2 separate regions of the Homo sapiens genome follow, and region 2 is linked to region 1. Evidence: fine-mapped expression QTL. A gene starts in region 1. The other region holds a variant in brackets. All regions are shown on one strand. Distances are from middle to middle.

Region 1 (16,558 bases):
GGACAGCATCAGCTCCCCACACCCAGCAGGCAACAGAAACGGTGGCCCTAATAATATTGTATATTGTCACAGGAGAAAATGACTCTAAAGATACATAAATGTCGCTAAATTAAAAGGAAACAAGCCTGGGCAATGTGGCAAGACCCCACCTCTACAAAAAATAACAAAAATTAGCCAGGCATAGTGGCACGTGCCTGTAGTCCCAGCTACTTGGGAGGCTCAGGCAGGAGGATTGCTTAAGCCAGGGAGGTCAAGGCTGCAGTGACCTGTGATTGTGTCACTGCACTCCAGCCTAGGTGACAGAGTGAGACTCTGTCTCAAAAAAAAAAAAAAAAAAAAAAAGAACCAATCTCTTGGTCTTTTGGAGGGTTGTTTTTCAAGGCAATGAGGTTGAAGACCCTAACTTATACACACACAGACTTTTTTTTTTTTTAATGGTAAATCATGACTAGAAAAAAATGCTTTACAATCATGGTTAAGTATGACGTTAGGGTATAAAACAGAATGCAAGTTTTCTGCCCACATGATAGATTAAAAGTAATGGCAAAGCCGGGTGCGGTGGCTCACGCCTGTAATCCCAGCACTTTGGGAGGCCGAGGCGGGCAGATCATGAGGTTAGGAAATCAAGATCAGCCTGGCCAAGGTAGCAAAACCCCCTCTCTACACAAGATACAAAAATTAGCCGGGCGTGGTGGCATGTGCCTGTAATCCCAGCTACTCGGGAGGCTGAGGCAGGAGAATCATTTGAACCTGGGAGGCAGAGGTTGCAGTGAGCCGAGATCGCGCCACTGCACTCCAGCCTGGGCGACAGAGCAAGATTCCATCTCAAAAAAAAAAAAAAAAAAAAAAAAGGCAAAAACCGCAATTACTTTTGCACCAACCTAATATTTGGGTTGCACATGGCTCTTTCCTATCATAAGAATATCTGTAAGAAAGTTCTAGACATAGAATGCTGTTAAAATATTGTGTGTATTTTAAATTTCATTAGATATTCTCTAACAATTCTCCATAAAAATGTCAGGTGACTTATTTTTTTCAGTCTTCTAATTTTAGAATTAGCATGCATAGCAGAAACAGCTATATTTTTCAAAAACCAGAAAAGTGAAACACTGCACATGAAGACTGCCTGGAAACTTTATCTGCAGGTCCACAGTACCGCATCAACAGAATGGGAACGTCGTTTTTAGAACTAGAGGTAAATCGCCTGTGTCTCCTAGATCACTTTGGGGCCTGTTTTCTACGTACCAACTCTCTTACTAAGTGGACCGTTTACAGTTGACCAGAAACTATGACCAGAAAACCCATCTGTCTTGCTGGGGGAAGGAACTGGTCACCAGACATAGCATCCGAGCTGAGGACCATGGTGGAGTTATCTTTACACTACAAATGTTTTCTACCTAAAGTCATCTATAAGCCATGGACATAGTTCAGAGAGAATACTTTCTGTTACCATGTCGGGGTGTCGAATAGTGTCCTGCCCATCCCCCCACAAATTCACATCCTTCTCAATCTCAGAACTTGACCTTATTTGGAAATAGGATCATTACAGCTGTAATTAGCTAAGACCAGGTCATACTGGGACAAGGCGGTCCCTCATCCAATGTGAGTAGAGTGCTCCTAAGAAGAGGAAAAGTGACACAGAGACAGATGGGCTGGCAGAGACGGCAGGGGTGTGTCCGCAAGCCAAGGAATGCCAAAGACCACCAGCCACACCAGAAGCAAGAGAAAGGCCTGGATCGGCTTCACCCCCAGAGCCTTCGGAGGGAGTGTGGCCCTGCTGACCCCTTGACTCTGGGCTCCCAGCCTCCAGGACTGTGAGAGAAGACTTTTCTGTTGTTTCAAATTCCCCAGTTTGTGGTGCTTTTGTTACAGACACCATAGCAAACAAGTACACCATGTGAGTTTAGGTGTCTTGATGTATTTTTGTTTTTTTTTTAACTTGTAACATTATTTATTTACCATTTTAACTTCGATTTTAGGGGTACATGTGCAGGTTTGTTATATAGGTAACTCGTGACTCAGGGTTTTGATGCTCAGATTATTTTTCCACCTAGGTACTAAGCCTAATACCTAATAGTTGGTTTTTTCCAAACAGCTCTCTCCTCCTACCCTCTACCCTCAAGTAGGCCCCAGTATGTGTTGTTCCCCTCTGTGTCTTTGTGTTCTCATCATTTCGCTGCTGCTTATACGTGGGAAAATGCAGTGTTTGATTTTCTGTTCCTGTTAGTTTGCTGAGGATAATGGCCTCCGGCTCCATCCATGTTCCTATAAAGGACATGATCTTGTTGTTTTTTTATTGCTGCGTAGTATTCCGTGGTGTATATGTACCACATTTTCTTTAGTCTATCATTGACAGGTATCTAGGTTGCTTCTATGTCTTTGCTATTGTGAATAGTGCTTCAGTGAACATATGTGTGCATGTGTCTTTATGGTAGAATGATTTATATTTTTTTGGGTATATACCCCGTAATGGGACTGCTGGGTCAAATGGTAGTTCTTGGAGGAGTTGTCACAATGCTTTTCACAATAGTTAGACTAATTTACACTCCCACCAGCAGTGTATAAGCATTCCCTTTTCTCTGCAAGGTGTTTTGATTTAATGGAAAAAAAGGAAAAACGTTTATTTCCTCAAGAACATCTCAAATGTATAAACATCTGCCATGTCCTAATAGAGCTTATAATAAAATCTTGTCACTAGGGGCAGATTGTAGAAGTTCTAAATGCCTAGTTTGAGAACTTTTAACGAGCCTTCTTATGGAAGTACATTTTGTGAATTTTCTATTTGTTAATCTGATCTCTGAACCAAAATTCCCTCTGGACATGGACCTGTTGTTCCATATCCCCACATCATACCTGGAGGACTCTAAACCCTCTCTCCAATGAGAGACCCCTTTCCGCAGCCCGGTGAGGAGCTTTGAGCAGTTTCCAGTCTAGGAACCAGGAGAGGAACTAGACCTTCCTCCTTCTTAAGCCTCTGTGGAAGACCCTGTCCCTGTGCCCCGTGGCTGTGGCACTTCCCAACGGCTGAGCCTGTGCTTTAACTGTGTTCTCATAGCTGCCCTCATCCTAAACCCCAAAAACCAGAGGGGCCGAGAGAAGAGGTGTGGCCCCCCCCACCCCGGCTGACACAGCCTCCTTTGTATCACATCCATGAGGTGAACCCAGGGTCCAGTGTCCTCCGCAATAGACTTCCAGCTTCTGAAACCAAGGGACAAAGGTACAAAAGAGTGACTCCCTGGTTCTTGGTGTTGCAACCCCGGGATGATGAGTCAACCGTGCTCGCTCAGCTGAGAATACTGCTCTTTCTCTCACTGTCCTCAAGGAAGAATGTGGAAAGGTTCCTCAGGCCTGACCCTTGTTTTTATTTCCTTATCGGCTCACCTGGGACACCTACCCACTTTCTCATCCTGCAAAGCATAGAATCAAGACGCAACTGTGTCTGAGAGCTTCTGCCTCCACCATGGGAACACACCTGGCTGGGAAGTCTTAGCTCCAAAGTTCTACACCAGGCCCCCAGTCATCAGCAGCTCCACCATGGGGAATAGAGTAGCAGTCCCATTTTCTAGGGAGGATTCCTGGTAGCTCAACTAGCCCATTGAGTAAGCCCTGTTTGTTCTTCATGGAATGGTTCAGTAACTCAAAGGGCAGTAGAAAAAAATTATTAATCAAAAAAACCCAGCCTGGCACAGTGGCTCAGGCCTGTAATCCCAGCACTTTGGGAGGCCAAGGCAGGCGGGTCACCTGAGGTAAGGAGTTTGAGACCATCCTGGCCAACGTGGTGAAACCCCGTCTCTACTAAAAATACAAAAGTTAGCCAGGTGTGATGGTGCGCACCTGTGATCCCAGCTACTCTGGAGGCTGAGACAGGAGAATTGCTTGAACTCAGGAGGCAGAAGTTGCTGTGAGCCGAGATTGTGCCACTGCACTCCAGCCTGGTTGACAGAGCAGACTGCATCTCAAAAAACAAATGAACAAACAAAAAAACCCAAGGGAATCGAAAATGGAATAATCTTACTCAGGACATTTTGTAAGAGACGTGAAAGACCATGCAAACATTTAGCATTCCATCCAAACTGGGCAAACCTAAAGTAGGCAAACCCTCCTGCTCAGACAAACACTCCTAGTTGCTGCTTTCACTGGTCTCATAGTACCTCATTTTCCTCAACTCTAACTCGGAGTGGAAGAGTGTTGTTTACGGGCTTATGTTCCTGCCCCCTGAGGATATAATTTCTTCAGGCAGGATTATTTTTATCCTCACATGGTTAAGTAAATACCTGCATAGATATGCAATTCAGGTGCATCCTGGCCAGCCCAGCTGAACCACATTCATTTCTCACTCCTATTCATTTCTACTCTCTTTACTTCTTTGTTTTTGTCTTGTTGTTGCTTCAGACACAGTTTCTCTGTTGCCCAGGCTGGAGCACAGTGGAGCAATCTTAGCTCACTGCAACCTCCACCTCCTGGGCTCAAGTGATCCTCTGGCCTCAGCCTCCCGAGTAGCTGGGACTAGAGGTGCGCACCGCCATGCCCAGCTAATATTTTTGTATTTTTTTTGTGGAGACGGGGTTTTGCCATGTTGCGCAGACTGATTTCAAACTCCTGAGCTCAAATGATCCGCCTGTCTCAGCCTCTCCAAACGCTGAGATTACAGGCGTAAGCCGCAGTGCCCAGCTATCCCTACGTTAAGACGGCACCGGCAGACTAATTCTCAAGTTCTACCTGCTAATTTACCCAATGCTTCATCATCACGGACATGTACCCACATGGACAAGCCAGGGCCCAGACTGTACTAGACCTTCCCACAGCCTAATTTTAGGGCACAGTGGCAACATGTTCACATGGGCAGGGGTCAAAAAAAAGAACCCAGGGGATCTTTAGAGTCGTGGTTCTCAAAGCGTGGGCCTGGGAGCAGCAGCATCACACCACGTGGGAACGTGGTCAAATGTCAGTGCATGAGCTCTACCCTGCACCTGAGACTCTAGGCAAGAGGCCCAGCGAGCCCCACTGCTGGAACAAGCCCTCACTCAGATAAGCCTGATGCATGTTCAAGTTTGAAAAACGCTGACTTAGAGCAATATTAGCCCAAAAGAACCCAATGTTAGAAGTTCTCTTTTCTTGCTGCTGGCTAGGAGGAGGTGAGTTCCCCCGAAGGTCATATGCCAAAGGCTTCCTTCAGTGTGGGACCACCTCTATAGCTTGCAGCAGGGACACCAGCTGCCCTGGTACTTCAATATTGTTCTTCGGTTGACTCAAGAGTTGACAGGAGGAGGAGAGAATGTGGAGGGACGCACCAGGTGTGAGGGACCTTCACAGCCCATCCATCATTTTAAGCTCAGGCAGCTGACTTGGAAAAACCTATCAGAATCACAAACAAGGCCAGCCAGGAGGCTGAGATCTGGTGGGGCAGGAAGAGAATAAAGTATCCTACTTTAAGTGAGTGAGTATCTCCAATCAACCTGGAGGTCTTGGCAGATAGAGGCAGGTGCTTGCTGCATTGAACCTGAAGCCTTGTACCTAATTTTCAGAGTCCATTTAGCATAGTCTTGCTAAGCTTTGGATAAGGGAGTGAGGTGGGGTGGGAGGAAAGAGATCAAATAGTCAAAACCTTCAGCAAAAGCACCCCCAGCCCTATGATCCTACGAAGGCTTCGGAGGCTGCTTTTTCTTACTGACGCTTCTTCCCAGCATATAAGAAGTTTTCTGCTATTCAGAGACTGAATTCAACCTGACAGCCCTTGGGAAAAGAACATCTCTCCACCCCAGGCTCTGAGAACCACACAGATACCTTGGCTAGGATCCCCAAACTATGGCTCATGGGCTACATCTGGCCCACTGCCTGTTTTTGTGTGGCTCACAAGCTAAGAAGAATGTAAGCTTACATTTTTAAGTGATTGTAAAAAGTTTTTTAAGATTTTGTGGCACATGAAAATTACATAAAATTCAAATGTCTCAGTACATAATGAAGTTTTATAGAAACTGCTCTGCTCATTTGTTGATTGTGTACGGCTGCTCTAGAACTGCAGAGTTGAGAAGTTGCCACAGAGACCACCTGGCCCCCAGGACCCGAAGCATTTCCTACCTGGGGCTTTCCAGAAGAGACTGTCGACCACTGCTTTAAAACAAAGGAGGTGCCGTTCATGAGCCCAACAAGACACTCAGCCAGGTTTGGCTGTGCATTGCCACACCCAAAGCAACATTTTTTTTTTTTTGAGACGGAGTTTCACTCTTGTCGTCCAGGCTGGAGTGCAATGGCACGATCTTGGCTCACTGCAACCTCTGCCTCCCGGGTTCAAGTGATTCTCCTGCCTCAGCCTCCCTAGTAGCTGGGACAACAGGCACATGCCACCATGCCCAGCTAATTTTTGTATTTTTAGTAGAGACGGGGTTTCACCATGTTGGCCAGGATGATCTTGATCTCTTGAACTTATGATCCGCCCGCCTCGGCCTCCCAAAGTTCTGGGATTACAGGTGTGAGCCACCGCGCCCAGCCCCAAAGCAACTTCTATTTATTCTGTTAACTGTTGTGGATTCTCCTTGCCTCTGTTACTAAGTCTAATAAATGCCTTAATGGTATGATTCTGAGTCTCATCCAATCCCTCACTTTCCTATTCATTCAGAACTTCTGCTCCTGGATTCTCAAGGAATGAAAAAGCACCTGCCGTGAAAATTTGCTCCAATTACAGTGGGACAAAGTCAGAGGCAGGAGGTACAGGCTTCTCTAAGGACCACGTCCTTTTTGTCCCCTGCCTCGTTCGCCAACTGCTTCAAGTGTCCCCTCAGTCACTGAGGGATCTGAAGCAATTCTGGCATGACCTAAGTACCAAAGATCTGTTCTTTTTTTTTTTTTTTGAGACGGAGTCTTACTCTGTCGCGGAGGCTGGAGTGCGGTGGCACCACGTTGGCTCACTGCAACCTTCGTCTCCTGGGTTCAAGCAATTCTCCTGCCTCAGCCTTCCGAGTAGCTGGGATTACAGGCACCCGCCACTATGCCCAGCTAGTTTTTATATATTTTTAGTAGAGACGGGGGTCTTACCATGTTGGCCAGGTTGGTCTCGAACTCCTGACCTCAGGTGATCCACCTGCCCTGGCCTCCCAAAGTGCTGGGATTACAAGCGTGAGCCACTGCGCCCGGCCAAGATCTGTTCTTAAGAGAAGTTACTACTACTTTTTTTCCCCATAACAACCATTAAACAATTTTTTTTTCATTTACTAACTAACCCTTGATATTGAAAAGTTAGGACTTCAGTAAAAATCAAATCGGTTTTTGCATATCAACTTTTTTGTTGCTATTCACATGCTATGTCAATCTCAGTTGCAAACAGAGAGGACCAGTTGCAGACTAGAACGCATCAATTCATTTGGAAAGGAGGCTTCAAATCTAACTCTGTATTCCTTCACCAATAACCAGGCAGCTGCCTCTAACAGCTCTCGGGATTGGATCTGCTGGAAATGCTAAACACGGGTCATAAATTCCAACTCAACAAGGATGCTGCTCAGGTATTTGGTATTTGATGATCAACAGAAATAGTTCAGAGCACCTCCCAGCAAAGTTGCATAGAGTGACAGGTGGGACTTGTTTGAGGGCGGGACCCAGAACTGCAGCCCAGGAATCTGCCTGCAGAGCTGAGCTCGGCCACAGTCTCCGCCAGAGAGGGAAGTTGCAGGTCTTTCTGGAACAGGCACAACTGGCTACAATTAGAAGTCCAAAGTGTGAACCACTCACTGCTTCTCCTTAGGAACCACCACATGCTGTGTCCGGCAGGCATTCTGAGAGCCAGAGGACGGCTGCACCCTGGGGCTGGGCACTGACACACATCACTCCACCAGGACCACTGAGGCAGCCACCGACCGACATTCCTGTCTACAGGCTCAGATCCCCCTCAACAACGTGGCCACATCTTCTGCAAAATGCTGGCCGGGGGCATCCATGGCACAACTTTGGGAAGCTGACTGGGCTTCCTCATCTTTAAGAAAGCAGCGGGCTGGGCTGCTCCCAGCAGCTCTGGCTCTGCTTCCGTTCATTCTCTCTGGGTCTGCCTTAGTTCCAGGGTGATTAATTCGGAAGCGGGGCAGGAGTCAAGTTGCCTCCTAGCTGTTTTGCTGACGCTCCAGCCCCATCAAGAGCCAGCTCCTCACCTTCTGTAAGGCACAGAAGGTGCCTCAAATTAAGCCAGGGGACAGTGCAGAGGGTTAAGAGGGGGCCACAAAGAGAGGCCCCATCTCCTCTTGGGCCAGGGTTCCCTGCGGAACTCCAGGGTCACCTCGCCAGCCAGAGGCAAGACAAGTGCAAAGGCAGCCACAAGGCTTCCGCCAGTTAGACGGTGTTTCTGCCGCCCCTGCCGTCACCCGCTGGGTCCCGTCCCGCTCCAAGCGCACTCCCGGCCCGCAGGGTGGGAATACGAGGATTACAGTGCCCCACGGGCGGGCGGGCCAGGATCGCAACCTCGGCGGAGTCGGCGCCTCTGGGCACCTCTGGCTTCCGCGCCCCGGCCGCACGGTGACCACCCGGGAGGGGATCCCGGGCGCCCCGCAACCTCCCGGCCCCCGTGGGCCTTCGGGTCGCCCCGCTTCCCGCCGCCGCGTACCCTTCGCGCCTCCCGGCCCTCGGTGCCGGCCCCCGCCCCGCGTAGCTCCGAGTCTTTAGCCCGGCCGGCCCCCCACCCGCCGAGCGTACCCATGGCGGCGGCTCCCAGGGCTCCTGCGACCTGCCGGCGGGACGTGCTCCTGGCAGGTGCTACTCCTCCGACCTGACGTCCAGGCCCGGCCCCGTTGCCCCAGGTACAGCCCCAGCTCTGCGAGGCGGGGCCGCCGGCTCCACCCGGGGGGCGGTGCTGCGGGGAGCAGAGGTCCGTGCTCCCGAGCCGTCGCGCGTGGACACCAGCCCCGGCCCAGGTGCGGGTGGGCCCCGACGGGAGCGCGTGGCAGGCCGGGGGAGAGCCAGTCTAAACGCGGATTCCCAGGCCCCACCCCCCGGCCAGCTGACTCAGGAGGTCGGGGCTGGGGCCCCAGAATGTGCATTTCTAAGAAGTCTAAGGGGAGGTTGATGCTGCTGGATCCAGAACGACACTTTGGAAACCACTGTGGGAGGAACGCACGCTTCTGGGTGGGGAGGCAAAACACGGTGGGACAGTGGTCAGCTGTGTGTGTGTGTGTGTGTGTGAGAGAGAATGTGTGTGTGGGTGTGAGTGAGGATTGTGTGTGAGTGTGTGTGTGTGAATGAGGATTGAGTGTGAGCATGTGTGAGAATATGTATATAGTTTGCATGTGAGAATGTATGTGTGATGTGTGTGTGAGAGTGTGTGTGAGAGTGTGTGTGTGGCTTTATTTTGAGATTCAACCTTTGAAAGCATTTCTGGGGGATTCTACATTTCCTTTCTTTAAGAATCATCCTTTCTTTAAGAGGACACAACCAAATGGAAGAATATTCTATGCTCATGGATAGGAGGAATCAATATCGTGAAAATAGTCATACTGCTCAAGGTAATTTATAGATTCAATGCTATGCCCATCAAGCTACCAATGCCTTTCTTCGCAGAATTGGAAAAAACTACTTTAAAGTTCATACGGAACCAAAAAAGAGCCCCCATAGCCAAGACAATCCTAAGCAAAAAGAACAAAGCTGGAGGCATCATGCTACCTGACTTCAAACTATACTACAAGGCTACAGTAAGCAAAACAGCATGGCACTGGTACCAAAACAGATATATAGACCAATGGAACAGAACAGAGGCCTCAGAAATAACACCACACATCTACAACTATCTGATCTTTGACAAACCTGACAAAAACAAGCCATGGGAAATGGATTCCCTATTTAATAAATGGTGCTGGGAAAACTGGCTAGCCATATGTAGAAAGCTGAAACTGAATCCCTTCCTTACACCTTATACAAAAATTAATTCAAGATGGATTAAAGACTTAAATGTAAGACCTAAAATCATAAAAACCCTAGAAGAAAACCTAGGCAATACCATTCAGGACATAGGCATGGGCAAGGACTTCATGTCTAAAACACCAAGAGCAATGGCAACAAAAGCCAAAATAGACAAATGGGACCTAATTAAACTAAAAAGCTTCTGCACAGCAAAAGAAACTACCATCAGAGTGAACAGGCAACCTACAGAATGGGAGAAAATGTTTGCAATCTACCCATCTGACAAAGGACTAATATCTAGAATCTACAAAGAACTTAAACAAATTTACAAGAAAAAAATCAAACAACCCCATCAAAAAGTGGGCAAAGGATATGAACAGACCCTTCTCAAAAGAAGACATTTATGCAGCCAACAGACACACGAAAAAATGCTCATCATCACTGGTCATCAGAGAAATGCAAATCAAAACCACAATCAGATACCATCTCATGCCAGTTAGAATGGCGATCATTAAAAAGTCAGGAAACAACAAATGCTGGAGAGGATATGGAGGAATAGGAACACTTTTACACTGTTGGTGGGAGTGGAAATTAGTTCAACCATTGTGGAAGACAGTGTGGCAATTCCTCAAGGATCTAGAACTAGAAATACCATTTGACTCAGCGATCCCATTACTGGGTATACACCCAAAGGATTATAAATCATGCTACTATAAAGACACGTGCACACATATGTTTACTGAGGCACTATTCACAATAGCAATGTCTTGGAAACCAGCTCAAATGTCCATCAGTGATAGATCGGATTAAGAAATTGTGGCACATATACACCATGGAATACTATGCAGCCATAAAAAAGGATGAGTTCACGTGCTTTGCAGGGACATGGATGAAGCTAGAAACCATCATTCTCAGCAAACTATCACAGGGACAGAAAACCAAATACTGCATGTTCTCACTCATGGGTAGGAGTTGAACAATAAGAACACATGGACACAGGGCGAGCAACATAACACACCAGGGCCTGTCAGGGGGTGGGGGGCTGGGGGAGGGATAGCATTGGGAGAAATACCTAATATAAATGATGAGTTGATGGGTGCAGCAGGCCAACATGGCATGTGTATACCTATGTAGCAAACCTGCTCGTTCTGCACATGTACCCTAGAACTTAAAGTATAATTTACAAAAAAGAATCACAAAACAAAAATAATAACACAGTGATTGTCTCCAGATTATTGTTCTGTTTTCTTGCCTGATCTCAGGAGGTTTTGCAAACACAGAAAGGAACATTAAAAAGGGGAATGAAGGTGAGTTTCCACAGCCTTTTTGTTTTAATCATGCTGAAATACAATGTAAAACTATCTGAAGTGCACAGTTCAGTGGCATGAAGTACATTCTCATTGTTGTCCCACCATTCCCACCATCCAGCTCCAGAACTTCTTCATCTTCCCAAATGGAAACACTGGACCCATTAAGCAATACTCCCCATCCACCCTTGCCCCCAGGCCCTGACACCCACCGTTCTTCTTTTTGTCTCCATAAATCTGACAACTCTGTCGTCCAGGGAAGAAATCTCCAGTGTTTGTCCTTTTGTGTCTGGCTTCTTTCACTTTGGGTAATGCCCTCCAGGCTCATCCATGGTATGAAGTACATCAGCCTTCCTTCCTTCTGAAGTTGAGGAATATTCTGTTGTGTGTCTACAACACACTTGGTTTATCCACTCACCTGACTCTATTATCTCTTGAGTCTTAGCATTCTCCCAGCCAGCCTTTCTGGAAGACTGTGGTGCCTAGGGAGAAACAGAGACTGCTATTCCATGGAGGTGACTGAGCCTGCCCTTCCCCGGCTTTCTTCACTGCCGCTGAAGAGTAAGAAACTCTTCAATTAGTTGCAGCATTGATACACACAAGGTAGCGGTCAATGTTACCTCCAGAAATGGGGGCTGCAAGTCACAGGACCTCATTAGGTAGAAAAATGCAGCCTCGGCTGAAGGAAAGGAAAACTTTCTCTGGAAGGTTTGGAAGCACACTCACAGTTGCTACCCTGCGAGATATCCCGGGCGTAGAAAGGTGGAGCTTGTGATGGTTTGTTTAGGTCAAAGTTTTCTCTGCAGGGTGGTATTTCTGTGGCTGAGCTCATGAACCCTGGAATCCGGACTTCTGTAAACACACTCTTGGTCTAGGCCAGCGGTTCTTAAACTGTGATCCCTGGACCAGCAGCATCAGCATCACCTAGGAACTTGAGAGAAATGCAGATTCTCAGGCCCCGCCCCAGAGCTACTGAATCAGAACGTCTGCAGTGGGTGCAGCAACTTCTCAGTAGTTGCGAGACAAATGCTGTTTCTTCCACAGGCTTATTTAATCCTTCATTCAGGCATTATTTATTTATCACCTCCCAGTGCCAACTACCATGCTAGTGACGGCATTGGGCAGAGTGGGTGGCCAGCGCAGAGACAGGCCTGCGCCCACAGAGCTCACATTCTTATCCGTTACAGCACGGCCAGAAGAGGCAAGGTACTCAAGATGGAGAAGCCTAAATGAAGAACAAAAACCAAGGGGGTCAAGGAGACAGGCTCTGCAGATCCTGAATAGCTCAGCCAATCCCTGGAGACCTGTGTCTTGCTGTGCTGCTCCCTGGCAGGCTGTGTAGGGGGTAATAGTGTAAACCAAAAGTAAATTTCTAAGGCCCCCCGACCATCTGAATGGACTTCCTCCTCTGCCCGGGCACTCTTAAAATTTAACCTGAGAGACTGCTCCAGGCCATGATGGGAAGTGGGGATTGGACGTGCCTCCTTGTACCTCTTGGGCATGGCACTAACATCAACGCAGACCTTAAGTCTAATAAAAAACATTTACAATATATTCTCTCTGAAGCCTGCTACCTGGAGGCTTCACCTGCATGATAAAACTTTGGTCTCCATCACCTCTTATTGCAACCCGGACATTTTCTGTCCATTGATCTCAGCTCTTTAGATAAATTCAGCCAATTGTCAACCAGAAAATTTTAAATCTACCTATAATCCAAAAGCACACCTCCCCCCATCCCCTACTGCTTCAAGTTTGTCCTGCCTTTCTGGACTGAACCAATGTACCTCTTAAATGTATTTGATTGATGTCTCATGTCTCTAAAATGTGTAACACCAAGCTACACCGGGATTACCTGGGACACATGTTCTCAGGATCTCCCAAGGGCTGTGTCAGGGGCCTTGGTCACTCACATTTGGCTCATAATAAATCTCTTCAAATATTTTACGGAGTTTGACTCTTTTCGTCAGCAGTAGACTCGGTTTTTATACCCTCCATATGGGCAACACAGTCTATGTATTCTATTCGTTTCCTGTGGCTGCCGTAACAAACTGCCACAGACTTGGAGGCTTATGAAAACACAAGTGTGTTCTTTCACAGTTCTGGAGGTCAGAAATCCAAAATCAAGGTATCAGCAGCATGCTCCCTCCAGAGGCTCTGGGGGGGACCCTTTCTTGTCTCTTCCAGCTTCTGGTGGCTCCATGTGACCTGGGGTTCGTGGCAGCATCACTTCCATCTCAGCCCCTGTCTCTACATGGCTTCTGCCCTGTGTCCTGTCTCCTTCTCCTCCCTTGTAAGGGAACTTGTCATTGGAGCTGGGGCCCACCCTAGTCCAGGATGAGTTCATCTCCATATCCTTCACTTGCTTCCATATGCAAAGACCCTTTTTCCAAAAGAGGCCCGGGTTCCAGGCAGGCACCATGAGCCCACTATACTCCCCAAAGGGACCCAAGTCTGGAATTGGAGTGTACAGAATTGGCAGGCTGGTCCTGGAGACACAGAAGTGTTGCTTGGCTTCCGAGAATTTTCCTTAGGCAAATGTTGTAACAATGAGATCAGCACTCAGTGGTAGCAGTCAGGGTTGTTCAAAACTAGGCCTGTCCTTGTTTTCTTACTGACACATTTAAATGATACAAAGGTATACTAGTAATCTATTCTAGGAAGAACATGGCCTTGAAAAGGTGGCTTGCAAACTTTTTGGAGTAACAGAGCGTCATTTCCTCCAGTTCTGTTCCTCAGATTGCTTGGCTGTAAAGACCTTTTCATTCCATCTCAGAGAGAAATTGAGTAGATGTCAAATATACAGCAATTAGAGTTGCTATGGAGATGCTGATGTTTAAGGAAGGGACTTGAGGAATAAACAATAAGAGTGAATCCCATAGCCATTATTTGAGAAGAGAGAGAGTCTGGGAAATGGAATGAGATGGTGGGGAGGAGGTAGGAGGGGAATAAACACGTGAAGTTTACCTGGAAAGTAGGAGAAGGAGGAAGACCAGTAAGCAACTCAAATTCATTCAAAGGCACTTGGGAACCAAGAGCTGGTGGACAAAATTCACATGTTGTGGCACATGAACCCCCAAGGCCTCAGAATATTAAGGGACTAGCCCCAGGAACATGGGATTGGGGGGCTTCCAAGCCGTGATGTCCTATTTACAGCATCTAGAAGACAAAGTGATCCATAGTAAATAAGTACATTACCATGAGCACCAAACTAATCTAAATTAAAACAGACTTTCCTTGCAAATCTAATTCTCAATCTTGATTGCCTGTAGTGTCAGTAGTAATGATCAATATTGATTACACACTTGCTGTATATAGATCCTGTGATCAATCTCATTTAATTCCTTCCTCACTATAATGCTATGGGTATTATTATCGGGGAGCATTTTTTTCTTTTTATTTATTTTTTTATTATGAAAAGTTTCAAACATACATGAAAAGGAAGAAGAGAATATGGCCGGGCGTGGTGGCTCATGCCTGTAATCTTAGCATTGGGAAGCCAAGGAAGGAGGATCATTTGAGCCCAGAAGTTTGAGACCAGCTGGGCAACTTAGGAGACCTTGTCTCTACATAAAGTACACACAAAAAGTTACTGGGCATGGTGGAGGTCAAGGCTGCCGTGAGCCGTGACTGTGCCATTGCACTCCAGCCTGGGTGACAGAGTGAGACCTCATCTCTAAAAGAAAAAATACAAAAAGAAATACAGACACAAATGTCCTATTTATTCACTTCAGGTTTAATTATACAATACCAGAACATATCTGACAACCTGCTTTAGTCAAGTCCTATACATTTAAAATACTATAGGTGATGGAGTTGGCAGTTATTTTGAATAAATATACATCTTGACACCTTATTACTCATGCACAATTACTCTATGTTTATCTTCTAGAATTACAAGACATGATCTCTCCAAATGCCACAGCTGACAAAGATTTTAGAAAATTCAGGTATTTCTATAACACACTGCTTAATTTGCCTTTCAAATTTTCTTTTTTTCTTTCTTTTTTTTTTTTTTTTTTTTTTTTTTTTTTTTGAGACAGAGTCTCACTCTGTTGCCCAAGCTGGAGTGCAGTGACACAATCTCAGCTCACTGCAACACCTCAGCTCACCGCAACCTCCGCCTTCTGGGTTCAAGTGATTCTCCAGCCTCAGTCTCCCAGGTAGCTGGGATTACAGATGTGCACCACCACACCTGGCTAATTTTTGCATTCTTAGTAGAGATGGGGTTTCACCATGTTGGCCAGGCTGGTCTCAAACTCCTGACCTTAGGCGATCTGCCTGCCTCGGCCTCCCAAAGTGCTGCAATTACAGGCATGAGCCACTAGACCTGGCCATCTTTCAAATATTCTACCACTCATATGTATATTAAATAACTGGCAAAAATCATGAGTTTTTTTTTGTTTTTTTTTTTTTGAGAAAAGGTGTTCGTTTTCTACTGGTACTGGAATAAATTATCACAAACTTAGTGGCTAAGACAACACAACTTGCTGACAGTTCTGGAAGGCAGAAGTCCAGAAAGGGTCTTACGGGGCTAAACTCATGGTGTTGGCAATCTGCGTCCTTTCTGGAGGCCCTGGGTAGAACTATTGCCTGGTCTTCTCCAGCTTCTAGAGGCCGCCGGCATGCCTGATTGTGTAGCCTTCTCCTCCATCTTCAAAGCCAGCAGCATAGAATTTTCCAACATCTTCCTTGCTCTCTGCTTCTTTCGCCATCGCATCTTCCTCTCTGATCCTGACTTTCCTACCTCCCTGTCAATGAGGCAGAAATTTAAAGAAAAATAAATACTGCATTTATTCACTCCAAGGAAAGTAAGGGTTAAGTGAAAAACACAAGTTTTCCTCTACTGCAGGCAAGGCTATAGACAGGTCGTGGTGACCCGGCCTGCAGAAATGAGCTCCACAAACCCCCAAAGCAAGGTTAAGAGAAGAACAACAACGCCGGGTGCAGTGGCTCATGCCTATAATCCCAGCACTTTGGGAGGCCGACGTGGGCGGATCACGAGGTCAGGAGATCGAGACCATCCTGGCTAACACGGTGAAACCCCACCTCTACTAAAAATACAAAAAAATTAGCTGGGCGTGGTGGCGGGCACCTGTAGTCCCAGCTACTCAGGAGGCTGAGGCAGGAGAATGGCGTGAACCCAGGAGGCAGAGCTTGCAGTGAGCCGAGATTGCACCACTGCACTCCAGCCTGGGTGACAGGGTGAGACTCCAACTCAAAAAAAAAAAAAAAAAGAACAACAACAAATTCCTTTACTTTCTCTCCTGTACTGAACTATTAGTTATGACTATGTTTGCCAATGCTTGTATTTAGTAAGATTTGCAAAGTTCCTGTTTGTTTGTTTGGTTGGTTTTTTTGACACAGCTGCAAGGCCACTA
Region 2 (12,279 bases), 28 kb after region 1:
GAGGAGGAACAGGCCACAGGTTGGGTGTGTGGTCAACATGGGAGCCAGCACTGAGCTGCCCCGCAGCTCCCAGGGGAAGTGGCCACCAGCCCTGGACTTCTGCCAAGGAGTCTCCCGGAAGGACAGCAGGGCGGGTGGGCGGTCAGGGTCAGGTCCACGCTTGTGCTGGTCCGTCCTGGAGCTCGCCATCCCGGGAGGGGTGCGCCACCGTGGGTGCAGGGGCATGTCCAGGCCTCAGCTGGTGACTTCCAGACAAAAAATGCCCAAGCAACTCTGAGGCCTGAGGGCAGCCTACGGGGAGCGGCCACCCGCTGAGTGTGGGAGCAACCACCGTGGGGTCGCAATTTAGGGGGCTTCGTTCTCCCGGACGCCAGATTCTGCGACCTGAGAGTCTCATGGTGGGGCTGGCCTGCCTTGAATGTGTGTGCATCCCATATTGAAAAAATGGATGGAGGGCCGGGCCCGGTGGCTCATGCCTGTAATCCCAGCACTTTGGGAGGCTGAGGTGGGCAGATCACTTGAGGTCAGGAGTTGAAGACCATCCTGGCCAACATGGTGAAACCCCGTCTCTACTAAAAATACAAAATTAGCTGGGTGGCACACTTCTGTAATCCCAGCTACTCAGGAGGCTGAGGCAGGAGACTCGCTTGAGCCCGAGAGGCGAAGGTTGCAGTGAGCCGAGATCATGCCACTGTACTCTAGCCTGGGCGACAAGAGCAAAACTCCGTCTCAAGAAAAAAATAAATAAATAAAAATAAAAACATGGAGAAGGCAAAGCACTCAGGCTTGGTTTTCTGCAGGTGGGAAAGGACCACACAGAGGCCAGACCCCTTCAGACGTGCCTGCTCCCCACACAGCCGGCTTGGGAGCCAGGTGGCCATTTTCCCATGTGAAGGAGAATATTTCCCTCCTCATTCAGGGCATCTGGGGTTGGGGGCCAGGACCTCCTCTGTCCCTGCTTCTCCTACATCCATCTGTCCAATGGATGCCAAGCTTCGACTGGTTGCCAGGCATGGGGCTGGGCCCCAGGAGAACCGGAGCAAGGACGAGACCTCTTCTCCATCCTGGTGAAGCTCTGTTCCTGGGCGGGTTAGTCAGGTACTCAGGACACCACAGAGGGCAGTGGGTGGAGGGCTTCAAAGTCATGCCCTCGGTAACTGGCCAGCAAGTGTTGCCACCAAGAGCCGTAAGGGGGCTTCAAAACGCTGGCACCTGCTACTGAAAGGTTTGTGGAATCTTCTTGAGATTAAAAATGAAAATGCTGCTGGCCTCTGTCTCTACACATTCTCTAGTGACTCTGTGTCTTCATCAGGGCAAATCATTCCTTGCAATAAATATCTTGAAGGTGTTCAATGAGCTGGCTAGTTAGAGCTTCTCTGGAGCCCTGTGTTCGAGTGGGACACTTGACTTTTGCTGTCAGGCCCCTCTTGGCATTGGGGTCACAGGGAGCAGTGATTCTCACACCCTACTGTGCAAAGGAATCCCCTGGGGCTTGTTGGAATGCAGACTTGCGCTCGGTGGCTCTGGGTGTGGACGAGGACCCTCTGCCCGCAAGCTCCCAAGTACTTGTCTGTTCGCGGCTGCTGGGCTGCAGGTCACCCCTTGACCAACAAGAGCTTAGACGGAGGCTTCTCCGCCGTGGCTGTACTGCTGTCCTGGACGATCTCTGTCTGTTGTGGGGGCTGTCCCGTGCACTGTGACATGTTCAGCAGCATCCCAGCCCTCCACCCACAGGGTTACAGTAGCACCCCCACCCTCAACCATGACAACCAAAAATGTCCGCAGACGTTTTCGTTTGCATCCCCTGGTGGACTGGGGCATGGGGGCGGGGTGTTGAGAACCACCGATTAGTAGACTTTCAAAGACTCTCCCAAATCCAGTTTTTTTGTGATCAAAAGTCCACATCAAATCCTCTTAGTTGGAAAACACGCATCACTCTAAGGCTGAAAAAGATGACTCCACAGCTGAGCTCTAAATGTCCTCTTAAAAATATAAAATCCCAGATCAACCTGTCTTCACAATGGCCGCATGTAGCAGCCCCTCCACAAAGACTGGGTACAGTGGCATTTGCACCTTCTAAGGGACCCTGGAGTGCGGCCTGACTGAGAGAGTGGATGGGGAGGGGATGCCGGGTCTCTGGCTCAGGTGTTGCGTGTTGGGAGCCCACTAGGTAGAACAAGTGTCCTCCACCCAGCTCAGCTCCGGAGCCTTCCTCGAAAGGCAAGAGGTCAATTCATCTTCTGCCTCAGCAGAATCGTCCCTTCCTTTACAAGGGGACTTTGCTCCATGATCTGACAGACCTGGGAAGTGTGTGGAGGTTTTACACGATGACTCAGTGCACATCAGAGTCAGAGACAGGACGGCCGAACACTGATTCCAGAGATAGGCATGTGGGCCCCGCCCGGGAAGGAGAGCTGCCTGGGAGATGGGGAGCTGCAAGAGAGCACCCAGAGGGGTAAATTTGCACAAGGCCACTGCGTACACTGGTACGTGCTTCCTTGAAAATGTGACATTTTCAGGCAGGGCGCGGTGGCTCAAGGCCGGGCACGGTGGCTCACGCCTATAATCCCAGCACTTTGGGAGGCCAAGGCGGATGGATCACGAGGTCAGAAGTTCAAGACCAGCCTGGCCAACATGGTGAAACCCCATCTCTACTAAAAATACAAAAATTAGCGGGGCGTGGTGGTGCATGCCTGTAATCCCAGCTACTTGGGAGGCTGAAGCAGGAGAATCGCTTGAACTCAGGAGGTGGAGGTTGCAGGGAGCCGAGACCGTGCCACTGCACTCCAGCCTGGCAACAGAGTGAGACTCAGTCTCAAAAAAAAAAAAAAAAAGAAAATGTGACATTAGTTTTCATTGCTCTGAAAGAAAAGCGAGACTGTTTCAACAGTTGGGTAAATTACTGTGCTTCCAGTAACAAAGACAGGTTTTCAGATGCAAAGTGACATGTACAACTACTGTGGAGAAATGTCCATCAGACGGAGTGCTAAGTGGGGACAGTGTGCCACCACTGAGCCAAGAATGGAGGAGATGAATGTGTGTGTGATATGGAAAATAAATGGAAGGAGAATTCAAAACCTTTCAAATTTGTTTTATATAAGGAGTAGAGAAGAATAATGAAAACAAGCACAAAAGTTAGACTTTTTTTTTCTTTTTTGAGACAGGCTCTTGCTCTGTAGCCCAGGCTGGAGTGCAATGGCACAATCACAGATTACCGTAGCCTCCACCTCCCAGCTCAATTGATCCTCCCACCTCAGCCTCCTGAGTAACTGGGACTACAGGCACACATCACCTCACTTGGCTAATTTTTGTATTTTTTGGAGAGATGGGGGTTTTGCCATGTTGCCCAGGCTGGTCTCAAACTCCTGGGCTCAAGCAATCCTCCTGCCTGAGCCTCTCAAAGTGCTGAGATTACAGCTGTGAGCCACCACACCCAGCCTAGACTTTTTTACATCTGTTTTCTCGCATAATTGGCTTTGGAGTCATGAATTTATAAAAAATTAATAGAACTTGTTTTTGTTTTTTTGAGATGGAGTTTCACTCTTTGTTGCCCAGGCTGGAGTGCAGTGGCGCGATCTCGGCTCACCACAACCTCCACCCCCCAGGTTCAAGCGATTCTCCTGCCTCAGCCTCCCAAGTAGCTGGGATTACAGGCATGTGCCACTACGCCCAGCTAATTTTGCATTTTTAATAGAAACGGGCTTTCTCCATGTTGGCCAGGCTGGTCTCAAACTCCTGACCTCAGGTGATCTACCTGCCTTAGCCTCCCAAAGTGCTGGGATTACAGGCATGAGCCACAGCGCCGGGCCCTAATAGACTGTTTTTTAGAGGAGTTTTGGGTTCACAGCAAAATTGAGGGGAAAGTACAGAGAATTCTCACATTCTCCCACTCTTCAACCCCCAAAACACCTTCCCCCACTGTCAACGACCTGCACTGGCCATACATTGTCGGACTCCATCAACCACGATAAACACATCATTGTCAGCGGGAGTCCGTCATTTACATGCAGACTAGCCCTTGAGTTTAACAAATGTATAATGACACATATCCACCATTATAGTATCATATGGAGTAGTTGCCCTAAAACCCTGCTGAGATGGTGCTGGTATTCTTATTCTGAGGTTGTCAGGTATCTAACGTGGAATGAAGCAATAGGTCATTAGTGATATTCTATCATTCCTGATGTCCCAAAAGCCGTGAATATCAGCGTGAGAGAAAGGGGATACAGACGGAAGGTGGAAGAGGAACCGCTGCCATCTTGGATATGAGTTAGAAGTGTGGTTAGGAGCTCCTGGGCTAGGAAGTACTTTATTTATTTATTTGTTTGTTTGTTTGTTTATTTATGAGACAGAGTCTCACTCTGTACTCACCCAGGCTGGAGTGCAGTAGCGTGATCTCGGCTCACTGCAACCTCCGCCTCCTGGGTTCAAGCGATTCTCCTGCCTCAGCCTCCCTTGTAGCTGGGATTACAGGTGCCTGTCACCATGCCCAGCTAATTTTTGTATTTTTAGTAGAGATGGGGTTTCACCATGTTGGCCAGGCTAGTCTTGATTGAACTCCTGACCTCAGGTGATCCGCCCACCTCAGCCTCCCAAAGTGCTGGCATTACAGGCATGAGCCACTGTGCCCAGCAGAAGTACTTTATAGATGTGTATTTCCTAGCTCTTCCACTGTAAAAGCTTAAAATCCATGACCAACCCTCAGCCATGTCCAGAGGGTGGCTTGCAAATTTCTAACTTAAAAAAACCCCCTGGAATCCTTGGAGAATGAGCTGATTCCATGTTTGGGCCAGGAAATGTACAAGATGAGCCACAACATCATATCCAATAGCAAAGATGTTCTCAAAGACTGTGAGGGTCAAGACAACAGGGCCCAGTAGCAACCTGGAGAAGCACACACCGGCCAAGACGAGACCATTTAAACATCAATAAAAATAAGTCAGTGCAACACATCAGATACGTTTAAATCAATTAAGTTCATTCTGGCACGAAAGGGAAAAACAAACTCGTCACTGCGGGAGATGCAGGGAACTGACTCATTGTTTTGCAAACTGGAAATTAAAAGAAAACACTTACGTATTCATGCTGTGGTGGCTGTACTGGTGGCTGACCAAATGGTATAGATAAGGGGATTTTTTCCTTACCAGGAGCATTCCAGTTAATAGGTGAAGGCAGACATCACGATTTTGTAGCCTGTAATCAATGAAATCGAACATCATAACAGCCCCACAAGACATATCTGCCTTTAGATGGAAGATTACAGCACCATCTATCAATATTATCAGTAATCTCGCCAAAAAAATCCAAATCTAAATTTGGTGAAGCCTCTAGATCCAATGATCCATTTATAGGAAATACAAAGGAGAGAGGAAAGTGTTAAGAGACAGACTCTGGCCAGGCGTGGTGGCTCACATCTGTAATCCCAGTACTTTGGGAGGCTGAGGCAGGTGGATCACTTGAGGTCAGGAGTTCAAGACCAGCCTGGGCAACATGGCGAAACCCCATCTCTACTAAAAATACAAAAAATTAGCCAGGTGTTGTGGCGCACACCTGTAATCCCAGGTACTTGGGAGGCTGAGGGAGGAGAATCGCTTGAACCCGGGAGGCAGAGGTTTCAGTGAGCTGAGATTGCACCACTGCACTCCAGCCTGGGGACAGTGTGAGACTGTCTACGAGAAAAAAAAAAGAGAGAGAGAGACAGACTCTAGGGATGCCATCTGGGAAACCCAGCAGGAAACCCCGAAGGAAAAACACCCCATTTTCTTCAACAAATACATTTCAGGGAACTCAAAGGTGGAGGGGAAATTTATAGGTTAGAAAAGGCTTAAAAGAAATACCTACTCAAAATATGAGTACTGATGAGAAAACTGTGAAAAAAATTACTATGGCATCAAAAGACAGTTGGAGATAACACTGACTGGAGGTTTGATGACATCAGTGGATAACTGTGAATTTTAAAAGTCAAGCGAGTATCCTTATCTCTTAGAGAAATGCCTTGAAATATGAGGGGATGGAATGAGGTGGTGTCTAGGATGTGCTTCAAGTCACACAGCAGAGGAACTAGCCAAGCATTGATCATGGCTGAAGCTGGATGGTTCATGGGGAGGCATTGGGCAGTTTTGTCTCTTTTTTATTTCTATTTATTTGTTTCATTATGTGTGTGTGTGTGTGTGTGTGTGTGTGTGTGTGTATACATATATAATATAGTTACACATATATATACACATATATTATACATATATACATATATATATATATTTTTTGAGATGGAGTCTCACTCTGTTTCCCAGGCTGGAGCGCAGTGGTGCGATCTTGGCTCACTGCAACCTCCGCCTCTTGGGTTCAAGTCATTCTCCTGCCTCAGCCTCCTGAGTAGCTGGGATTACAGGTGCACACCATCATGCCTGGGTAATTTTTGTGTTTTTAGAGACGAGGTTTTGTTATGTTGCCCAGACTGATCTCGAACTCCTGACCTCAAGTGATCTGCCTGCCTCGGCCTCCCAAAGTGCTGGGATTACAAGCATGAGCCACCATGCCCAGCCTTTCTTTTTTATATGTTTGAAATTCTGTATAATAAAAAAATAGAGGAAATGCATAGATCAGAGTCAAGCACATATGAGAATCCTAAGCTCCAGAAGAAGTGGTGTCTTGGGCTTTGTTTGGAATTTCCTTTCTGGATCGCTCACTATGTACCAGCTTTGTGATTTATAACCAGGAACGGAAGCAACAAAGAGCATTTAGGATGGCTTGAATTTGGAAGAATAGCATGATGGTTACACATGCAGACTCTGAAGCCAAGCTCATAGTTTCAAACCCCAGCTCCTAGCTGTGTGACCTTGGTCCCACTGTATACAATTGTATAGCCAATTTTCTTCCACATACCTCATCCTTATATGATGGTGACATCAGCTGGGCCAAGAAAGACTTCATTTGTTGAGTGCTTTGCTTTCATGCATGTGGAATTTCAGATTTGAATCCATTTCCAAGTGGAGTTATTAAGTAGACAGGGAGACTAACAGTCCGGAGTTTGAAGAGGTCTGTGCCAGAGATGTACATTTCAAATTCATCACCTAGATGATGGATGTCAACATACAGTTAGCATAGACATGGAGGGGGGTCATCACATAGATGGTGAATGTAGTCATATAGTTGGCATATAGATGATGGATGTTGTCACATAGATGATCTATGTCATCACATAGATGATGGACATCACTCTGTCGCTCAGGACGTCAACGCTGTCATCACCTTGATGATGATCATCATCATGTAGTCAACACATAGACAATGGACATCATCGTGGTCGTTACATAGACAATTGACATCTTCATGGTCATTACGTAGACAATGGACATCATCGTGGTCATTACATAGATAATGGACGTCATCACAGTCATCACATAGATGATGGATGTCATCATAGTCATCACACAGATGAAGGACATCGTCGTATGGTCAGCATATGAATGAGATCATTCAAGCCACAAGAAGTGAGCGTTGCACCCAGGGGACCCGGGAAATAAGACACTGGGCAGCAGCACAGGAGGAACCCCTGTGGTGTGAGGGAGGAAGGAGAGGTGTGTCCTTCCCGGCAGCCAAGTGAGGACGGTGCTCAGGGCGGAGCAAGCTTTGGCTCCCACACTGCTGCTGGTCAAGTGAGGCAAGCACTGAGGACAAGGCCCTGGAAAACTTGGCAAGAGCATCACGGGTTGATGGGGGAATCCGTGCTCCACGCATAGCCGTGACGGCTGTGACCTGGCTGGACACTGTGATGGTGAGGGGCATGGAGCTTTGGCAAGGACTCACTTTCTGTCAGAGGACAGGAGAGTTGAGGTCATAGGAGCATGGTCGGAACGTGGGTACCTCAGAGCGGGCCCCCAGGACCAGACAGGCTAGCTTTCTGGGTGCCTTGTTGGGATTGAGGACCTCCCACCCATCATGGCCACGGCCTCTCCCTAGAGGTGCATGGGAGGCACAGGTACAGGCTGCTGTTGGGGCTCTGGGGAAAGAAGGGACCCACGACCTGCACCTTATCACCCACTGCCTGCCACACTAAAGTAGAAGCTTCCTCTGACTCCAGGATTCCCAAGGAGGTGTGTGGTGGCCCAGGAAGAGCAACTGCCATGTGGACAACTCAGGAGGAATGGAGAGCAAATCCCTTCTGTCCCACATACACTCAAGGAAGCTGACCCGCTCAAGTAATGGAGGTCGGGGGAAGGGGGTTGAGAACCTGGACTCCACAGGCAGGGGGTCTACACTGGCACTGGTGAAGCAGGCAGAGCCTCAGGCACCTCCGGCCGCATCATTGTGTCCCGGGGACCCAGCAGCCCAAAAGGGCTACACGGACTTTCCTTGCAGAGCCACACAGAGGATTTCTTTCCTCTACTCAGTTCTAAAACAACGTCTCTTGCTCCCTTCAGTAAGGCGACCCCTCCCATGGCACAGCTAATATGTGTGAGTAGAAAAATAACAGTGACACAATCCACACAAGATCCATGGAGCAGATTTATCTTAGGATGGAATTTTTCAATGACACGTGTTAATGTGTGTGAACCTCCTTTGGTGGAATTTCACGGGGTGAAATAGAAAAGGACAAGGAAATTCTGAGAGGTGCACGAGGCTTTTTGGGCATGGTAATGAGACATCCTTTCTCAAAGCCCACCCTGTCTCCAGGTAAATCTTCACCAAGACAGTAGGAATAATGGGTGAAGGAAGTTACAGTGGCTCAAAACTACGGTTCTCACTCCACCAGGGGCTCTTACTATCTGCAAAGTAGAGCCCATTTGGGGGTGGGAATTGGAGGAAGTGGGTGCTCTGGACCAGCTGTGCAGAGCTCCTGTTGCAGAGACAGCTGTGGACCCAAGGCTCACGTGGGTGGGCAGAGCAAAGATGGCAGAAACCTGTTGCTCAATTTTTATCTTAAGGAAAATGAGCTCTGAGTCACGTTGAAAATCTGGTAACTCTAGGTGCTCCTA[C/T]ACAGTATTTACCGGGAACCAAAACTTCTAAAGTTGAGGCAACCTCAACTATGTGGGTCAAGAAACAACAGGAAACTCAGAAGACAGAAAATGCTGGAATGGAGCCAGTGAAGTGTCGATGGCAGTTATCTGGAAGGGATGAGGGTTGGAGGACTGTGGATATTTAAATTCTCATTTCTATTTTTTGGTATTTTATACACATTCTACTAGGAGCAAATAGTGCTTTTATAATTAGAAAAAAGTACAGAGGCTATTTTTTATAAAGAGAGGAGGGGGAAAGTTTACTGGATTTGCCTAGAACATGAGATTGTGACTGGGTGGAGATAACAGTGATAAATTCCTCTATTTTAAGCTACACAAATCTAGGAAGTCTACAACATCTAGAAATGTAGGAAATCGGAGTGTAGAGCCTGGCCATGGATTCTGTTCTTCATGTTTGAAATGTGCACGTTGAAAGAAAATTATCATTTTAAATTCTGTACAGTGTGTAACTTTAAAAAAGTACTGTATCTTCTAAACTTCAAACATTTTTTTAATCTACTTTTGAAAGTGTTTCCCTTTTTCTCTTGGCTGCCAGGATGCTCAGAGCTAAATTTGGGGCTTAGTCTGTATTGTTAAGGATAACAAACAACCATCTCTTCCCTTCTTTCCTTAATGTCCATTATTTTATGCTTGCTTGAATGATTTTATTGATTATGTTTTTATTACAAGCCCCTACAATCCTTTTGGCTGGGGATATAGTAATAGTAAATGATGTTATTTGACAGAGAAACTGTGAAGTCAAGAGAAACAGGGATTTTCCTCAGTTATGGGTGTCAAAGCTGGAGCTCAGATGGTGTTGGACTCCACACTTGGGCCACTGAGCTAGAATCCAGCCTCTCAGACTCCTCATCCAGTGCTCCTTTCACACTGCCAAGCTAAGCAGAGGACATTGGGTGGCTGTCTGTGACAGCTTATGACAGATGGTGAGAGAGGGGCCATATTACCTCCCACTCACTTCCGGTCATGCCCACCTGGAAAGGTGGGAAGTCATTTACCAGGCAATGTGGGCCCTGCTGTTGCCCCACTCCTGGAAGCACCTGCTCAGAACCAGTCGGACGGGGCTGCCACAGCCAACGGTGACAATATTTCCCAATCTTGGTTTCAGAGCAAGGCTAGTTCCTTCAGAAACTTGTTGTCCTCATCCTGTCTTGGTTTGGTGATGTTTCTGTTCAAACCTCTGTCTCTCTAAGGATCTGAGTCTCCCCACATGTCCTGGAGCACCATGGCCCCATCCCCTTGTGTGGCATGGGGTCTGGCTGTGTTAGTCCGCTCGGCTGCCACAACACAGCTCCACAGGCTGTGGTTTAAGCAGCAGACGTCACTGCCTCACGGTTCTGGAAGCCGAAGTCCGAGATTAAGGCGTCAGCAGGGGCAGCTGCTTCTGAGGGCCATGAGGAAGGGATCTGTTCCAGGCCTCTCTCCTTGGCCTGTGGACGGCCATCCTCCCCCTGTGTCTTCACTCACCTTCCTGCTGTGTGAGTCTGTGTTCAGATCTCCTCTTCTCACAAGGATACCAGTCCTGTTGGATTGGGTTCCACTCTAGTGACCTCATGTTGACTTAATTACCTCTCTAAAGACCCTACTCCAAATCCAGTCACTTTCTGAGGTGCTGGGGGTTAGGACTTCAATACACGAATTTGGTGGGGGCACAGTGGAGCCTGCAGGACTTGCCCCTATCTCTGCAGAGGCCGGTGTGGCCTGGAGGTGCTGAGCACCTTGGCCGACCAGGCCCCAGGTCAGAGGAATCTCCCCGTGTACCGTGTGACTACGCCAACTTTGCCCATCTCTCTGCCCATGGTTTCTTCACAGGAAGCCACCGCCCACATGGCAGCATTGTTCTGAGGATTAAGGGTCACACTGGAAAGTGCTGGCACCTGAGAGCAGCGTAGGAAGAGGGTGTGGTGAGTGTCCCTGACACAGAGGGATCAGCCTTTGTGAGGAGGAGGCCCTGCCTGCTCTCCTCCTGAGCTGATGGGTCAGTCACACCAGGACAAAGGTCTGCCCGGGGCTGTGTGGGTTCCTCCTTCCTGAGCTGCACACCAGCATCTGCTGAACACCTTCTGGAGCTCAGCTCAGTGTCTCGTCCAGAGACACTGGTTCCCTTGGCTTCTCAGCAACTCTCGGATCTGGGCCTGGGTCTAACCTCAGCGGTGGTCTTGCCCATTTCTAGGGCCTCACAATTCAGCCTCATGTCTTCACCTGTGGCTCTTTTGCAAGGCTCAGAAAGCTCTAGGGTCAGTTCCAGATGACTCCCACCAGCATGCCAGTAGGAGCCACCACCCCCTCTCAGCCAGCGCCACCATATTCCAGGCAAATTCCAACTGACACAGACTTCAAGGAACGATTGTAGCCGTTGTTCTTGCTTCTTCCAAATGGAAGAGTGCATTATTGGGGTCCCTTCTAGCACGCATTTCATTCCCCACCGTGAGGCAGGGGATGCCCGGGCTTTCCCCTGACTTGCAGGGGGAGAGACAGGAGTGAAAATGAATCTGCTCAAGTCACTTGTGGACAAGAAGGTGCAAGCTCCAGACTCCGGTGCTGCGTCCTCATCCGGTGTATGCGCAGCATGACAAGCCCGGACCAGCAGCAGATATCAGGCCAGCCTGTGCCAGGAAACCTCCTACATCAAGGGTGCAGGCTCAGCCCACTGGGGTGGGCAACCTGCGCCCCTTCCATCACTGCGTCTGGCTAAGCGGGCAAGTAGACAGCCACCCAGGTGGGGCAGGTGATGGCTGTACCCCTGCTCCTGGCTGGAGTTGCTAACCGAGGACCCTTGGGAGCCACCCTCTGCCACCAGGGATGAACCGCAGCCAAGGAGGCAGGACAGGGGCCCAGTCTGTGTGGTCTCTGGAGTATTTCTCAGAGAGCATTTGTGGGACCCTGGCCGCGGGCCAGGCTCTAGAGGAGCAGGTGTGTCTGTCAGTGGATTTGGGGAAATAGTCATTAGCAGGGACCTGTCTTAGAAGCAAAGTTCATCCAAGAGGCTTTGAGAGGTACTAAAGGAGAAGCTGCTCAATCTAACTTCTTATAACAAGGAAACCCAACCTCCTTTTAATTTTTTGTCCCTCAATGTCCCTGTTAACATCCCATGTCCTTGGAACTGGTAATGTTCCCTAGAACGCCTGTGGGAAAACATGGGTCAAAGGGAGTATTGAGCAAGAATTAATGCTGAATTCTCTCCTCTTCCCTTATTTGTGCTGAGTCCTGGTTAAAAAATAATAACAATAATAACATTTACTCAGGGCTTACCATGAGCCAGTCG

Evidence for each region.
Region 2: its variant is fine-mapped to the expression of SLC15A1 in sun-exposed skin (GTEx, PIP above 0.99).

The regions. Positions count from the first base shown.
Region 1 is chr13:98,743,922-98,760,479 of GRCh38, forward strand. SLC15A1 (solute carrier family 15 member 1) reads right to left here and starts at 8,751. Exons shown (of 23, transcript NM_005073.4): 1 at 8,674-8,751. The coding sequence starts at 8,677. It overlaps LOC105370330 (a long non-coding RNA gene), which reads right to left and starts at 14,276. Exons shown (of 3, transcript XR_931672.2): 1 at 14,145-14,276; 2 at 11,801-12,111; 3 at 11,201-11,662.
Region 2 is chr13:98,773,941-98,786,219 of GRCh38, forward strand. No RefSeq gene overlaps it. Among named protein-coding and RNA genes, the nearest start is that of SLC15A1, 27 kb to the left of the region's middle. RefSeq lists a silencer at 7,875-8,169 and an enhancer at 11,760-12,279. The variant C/T (reference allele first, on the strand shown) is at 8,976.